Regions from separate parts of the Homo sapiens genome. Here region 2 is linked to region 1. The links come from fine-mapping of genetic effects on gene expression. Tissue or cell type: whole blood. Region 1 holds a variant in brackets; the other region holds the start of a gene. All regions are shown on one strand. Distances are between the middles of the regions.

Region 1 (2,683 bases):
GTCTGGCTCCCCAGTGTGTGTGTGGGCTTGGGAAAAACTAGCACAGTGCAAGGGCTCAGTAGCAGCTGGCAGAATTGATAAGACTGAGAGGTGAGGCCAACTGGACTTCCTGGGTCGAGCGGGGACTTGGAGAACTTTTCTGTCTTACAAGAGGTTTGTAAAATGCACCAATCAGTGCTCTGTAAAATGGACCAATCAGCACTCTGTAAAATGGACCAATCAGCAGGACATGGGCAGGGACAAATAAGGGAATAAAAGCTGGCCGCCCCAGCCAGCAGCAGCAACCCGCTCGGGTCCCCTTCCACGCTGTGGAAGCTTTGTTCTTTTGGTCTTCATAATAAATCTTGCTGCTGCTCACTCTTTGGGTCCGTGCCACCTTTAAGAGCTGTAACACTCACCACGAAGGTCCGCGGCTTCATTCTTGAAGTCAGCGAGACCACGAACCCACTGGAAGGAACCAACTCTGGACACATCTTGGGGGCTTGTCTGGGATATCGCCTTTTGGTGAGTACCATCGGACCCATTTTGCTTGCTATTCTGTCCTATTTTTCCTTAGAATTCAGGGGCTAAACACCGGGCACTTGTCGGCCAGTTAAAAGCAACTAGCGTGGCCACCAGACTAAAGACACTGGTGTCGGGCTTTCTGGGAAAGGGCTCTCTAACAATCCCCAACTCTTTGGAGTTGGGAGCGTTGGTTTGCCTGGAACCAGCTTCCACTTTTCCTGTACTTCCGGACTGAGCCAAGTGTCAACAGAGAGGAAAGCCATTTAGCTCCAGGGCCCTGACAAAAAGTTGGTTGACCCTGCAGCCATGAGCGGAACTCTCAAAGTCACGTCACCCAAGCGAGACTTGCCCATTTATCCTATCTATCCTGACCCTTGCCTCCTGGGTCCTAATGCCTGTCAGACATACTTCCTCCCACCTCTCCTCTCCGAGGCTAGTCCTGTTTCTAAAAACCACTCCCTGTCTCTGGTGCTTTTCTAGTTTCTCCTATAAGAACGACTTCTAGTATACATTTCAGGACTCTGTTCCTTTCTTTAGGCATCTGGGCTCACCAATCAGAAAGACAATCTTTGCCCAAAGCCCTGTCAGTGGGGAGACTATCTGGAATTTTAGGATCCCTCCTCAGACTAGCAGGCCTAACAAAGGCTATTCCCAAAGCTAGGATATGGGGAGCCTCAGAAATGATATCCTTCCTATTCACATGATGAGAAGTGAGGACAAAAGGCATCACTCTAGAGATCCCTTCCCTCCCTCAGGGTATGGCCCTTCACTCCATTTTGAGACATAACATCTTTATAGAACAAGGGTAAGGTCCCAATACTAACAGGAGAAAATGCTTAGGACTCTAACAGGTCTTCGAGAATGTGTTGGTAAGGGCCACTAAATCTGTTTTTTCTCAGTCTTCTTTGTGGTCTAAGAGGAAAGGCAAGGATGCATGTTTC[C/T]GAGAATGCATCAGTAAGGGCCACTAAATCTGACCTTCCTCAGTCCTCTTTGTGGTCTAGGAGGAAAACTAGTGTTTCTGCTGCTGCTTCGGTGAGCGCAACTATTACGATCAGCAGGGTCCAGGGACTGTTGCAGGTTCTTGGGTGGGGGAGGGGGGAAAACAAACCAAAACTGCGAGCAGTTTTTCTTTCACATGGGAAACACTCAGGCATCAACAGGCTCAACCTTGAAATGCATCCTAAGCCACTGGGACCAATTTGACCCAGAAACCCTGAAAAAGAGGTGGCTCATTTTTTTTTTCTGCACTATGGCCTTGCCCCAATATTCTCTCTCTGATGGGGAAAAATGGCCACCTGAAGGAAGTATAAATTACAATACTATCATGCAGCTTGACTTTTTCTGTAAGAGGGAAGGCAAATGGAGTGAAATACCTTATGTCCAAGCTTTCTTTTCATTGAAGGAGAATCCACAACTATGCAAAGCTTGCAATTTACATCCCACAGGAGGAGCTCTCAGCTTACCTCTATATCCTAGCCTTCCTACAGCTCCCATTCCTATTAAGGATAAGCCTCGTCTAATCTCCCCCACCCAGAAGGAAACAAGCAAAGAAATCTCCAAGGGACCACAAAACCCCCTGGGCTATCATTTATGTCCCCTTCAAGCTATAGGGGTAGGGATTTTGGCCCAATCTGGGTACATGTCCCTTCTCCCTCTCGATTTAAAGCAGATCAAGGTAGACCTGGGGAAGTTTTCAGATGATCCTGATAGGTATACAGATGTCCTATAGGGTCTAGGGCAAACCTTTGACCTCACTTGGAGAGATGTCATGCTATTGTTAGATCAAACCCTGGTCTTTAATGAAAAGAATGGAGCTTTAGCTGCAGCCCAAGAGTTTGGAGATACCTTTTATCTTAATCAAGTAAATGATAGGATGACAGCTGAAGAAAGGGACAAATTCCCTACTGGTCAGCAAGCCATCCCCAGTATGGATCCCCACTGGGACCTCGACTCAGATCATGGGGACTGGAGTCGCAAACATCTGTTGACCTGTGTTCTAGAAGGACTAAGGAGAATTAGGAAAAACCCCATGAATTATTCAATGATGTCCACCACAACTCAGGGAAAGGAAGAAAATCCTACCGCCTTCCTCGAGTGGCTATAGGAGGCCTTAAGAAAATATACTCCCCTGTCACCTGACTCTCTCGAGGGTCAACTGATCCTCAAACATAACTTTATT
Region 2 (2,683 bases), 200 kb after region 1:
CCCTCCTGGTGGCTCATAAGGAAGCTATTATTGGAGAATTAGGGGAGTCATTAGCTCCCATAACGGCAGTGATAAAAGCCCATAGGAGTCGTCTAATGAGCCTGCTTTAGGACTGGTGCTGTTTTTAGGAGCATTCTCCAGCCCGGGGACATTCTGATAAATGGCCATTGAGGCAGAGGACTGGGGCAGGGCACCGATCCCTTGAATTCAGTCCAGTATCCAGAGATCCCAAGACAGTGCAGGCACCCGGTGGGACCCAAAGGAACTTGCTGAATACACGCCCCAGCCAGAAACACATGGAAAAAGACGCTCTTCACATATGACAGGATCACTAGGCTCCACGGAGCTGAACCACCTTCTCACTAGTTTCACAACTCGGGGAACACTTCCTCACAGGGTGCTGGTAAATTATTAAAACAGAAGCATCCTCCCCCAAGCAAACAGATGGGATGCACCCAAAAGCAGTCCATGCCTCCACTGCCCCCAGGGGCGGAAAACATGCCCCTTAAAACCTTCCACCGTGCCCAGGTGGACAGAGTCCCCCGTCCTGCCTGATTGTCATGGCCACCACTGAGCGCAGACCTGGGCCCTGGCAGACCCCAGGTCAAGCAGATTTCAGAGCGAGTCCGTCCCCAGCTCCCAGGGGGATGTCCACGGGGGACACAGAAAAGGGGTCTCGGCGGAAGCAACTCCTCAATTCATTTCTCTAGAGCAGGGGCTTCGTTCGAGATGGCGATCAGGCTGGAAGGGGGAGGGACGGAGAGACTCGTGGAGGCTGCCGTTGCATAGCAAGATGATTTTTTTCTAAAATCCAGATTGCATATGCTTATGGCGGGGTGGGGGTTTCGGGTACGTACAGGGGGGCAAGTTTGGAAGCTACCAAGGCATAGCAGGTTGACCGGAGGTGGGGGCAGTGCAGGAGCAATGATAGGCATTTAGGGGGCATCCCTGGGTGTCCAGCTGGGGGGCTTCCCCTTAGCCCCCCTGGCGCCCAAAGGGCCAGAAACGCAGGCGGGGGTTACCCAGGGGCTGGGGTCTTTTTCCTTTTTCTTGCTTTCTTTCAAAAATAATAATAATAATAGGCCGAGGCTTGTCCCGGGTGATAAAAGGGCCCGGCCGGGGCCACCCACGCTGTCATCTTTTGTGCGGGGCGCCGGGGCCGTCTGTGCCCAGCCCCCGCGCGCCCCCGGCCCGGGAAGGGGCCCCCGCTCCCGCCCCTGGGCGCGCCCCGCCATTGTCCGGCCCCGCCGCCCCCGCCCGAAAACCAGCGGGCGCCCCCGGGCCGGGCGGTTAACGCCCCAACCGCCCCGCCGGCCCGGACAAAGCGCGAGGCCCGGCCCGAGCAGGCCGCGCCCGAGGCCTGGGCCTCGAGTCCCGGGCGCGCCCGCAGCCCCGAGCCGCGACGCGGGGGCGGCCATGGCGGCGGGGTCCGCGCTCGGACACGGCCGGGCGGCCTCCCCGTGGGCTCACCTGAGGCGGCGTGCGCGGCCCGGTCCGGGAGCAGCGGCGCGCTCTCCCCCGCCCTCGGCGTCGCACCCCCAGGCCCCGCTCGGGCCGGGCCCCGCTCGGTTGCTGGCGACCGAGCCCTCCGCAAGCGCTCGCGGGGGGGCTTATAAGGCCGCGCGCCAGCTCCGCCCCGACTGCCATTGGCTGCCGGATCCACGCCCGAGCGCCCATTGGCCGGAGCTGACAGCTCCGCCCCTCCCCTCCGCCGGGCCCATCAACACCGCACGGCCCGCCCACCGCGCGCCGCGATTGGGCGGGGACAAACGCCGGCCTCGCCTCTTCATTGGCAGACCGGCGGGGACACGCCGGCGCCCACCCACGTGCCCGCTGACCGGCTCTGTTCTCATTGGAGGGGGCGCACGCCAGCCAAGGCTGCCGCGACCAACCCGACGGCAGCTGGGCCTTGGATTGACAAGGGAGCCTCAGGGCCCGCCCGACGACCGCACAGAGAGGAGCCAGTATTGGCTTGAGGGGCCAGCCCGAGGCGCGGACAGGCTGGGGCAGGTGCCAATCACTGCCCGCAAGCTCCGGGCCCCGCCCTGGTTATCAGGCGGCGGCTGAGTACGTGAGACCCAGCACAGCATCAGCACCGGCCGGGAACGTGCAGGCTGGAGGTTCGAAACCCGTGGCCGGAATGTGGGCTTAGCGTTCCCCAATTTGCAAAGTGCCAAGCAAGGAGACATAGCGATCCGTTTTGCAAAGGAGGAGAACCGAGAACATAGGGTAAAGCAGCAAGAGCCTCCACCCCGCCACCGTAGGTCTATTCCCATCACAATCAACAAACCTTTGCCAAGGGGCAAGGCCTTCGGAATAGTTAGGGTCCCTCTCCCCGAGTTCCCTAAAATGTATGGGAGAGAATGAGCTTTGGTGCTTTCTGACCTGGATTCAAAGCTAAGCCGGGCCCCATGCCTCACTGTGGTTGACCTCCAGCAAAGTAACCTCGCTGAGTCTGTTTCCAACTGTGCAATGGATATGATGGTAGTGGCCACACCCCGTCTACCCGCCTCTTGAGAATGTTGCAAGGATTAAGTGGGATGAGGCACGGAGAAAGATTTGACCCTGTGACTTCACAAAATGAGCATTCATTGTGTACTGGACCACGCAGGGGTGTGAGGCATGCCCCCATTTGGAGTGGCAGGAGTGTAAATTGGGCAATTTGACATTTTCTAATAACATT

Evidence for each region. PIP is the estimated chance that this variant, and not a neighbour inherited with it, causes the effect.
Region 2: KDM4B starts here. The variant in region 1 is fine-mapped to the expression of KDM4B in whole blood (TOPMed, PIP above 0.99).

What each region holds. Positions count from the first base shown.
Region 1 is chr19:5,163,186-5,165,868 of GRCh38, reverse strand. No RefSeq gene overlaps it. Among named protein-coding and RNA genes, the nearest start is that of PTPRS-AS1, 13 kb to the left of the region's middle. RefSeq lists a silencer at 90-309. The variant C/T (reference allele first, on the strand shown) is at 1,446.
Region 2 is chr19:4,968,018-4,970,700 of GRCh38, reverse strand. It overlaps KDM4B (lysine demethylase 4B), which reads right to left and starts at 1,588. Exons shown (of 23, transcript NM_015015.3): 1 at 1,471-1,588. RefSeq lists an enhancer at 99-148 and silencers at 1,415-1,714, 2,025-2,124.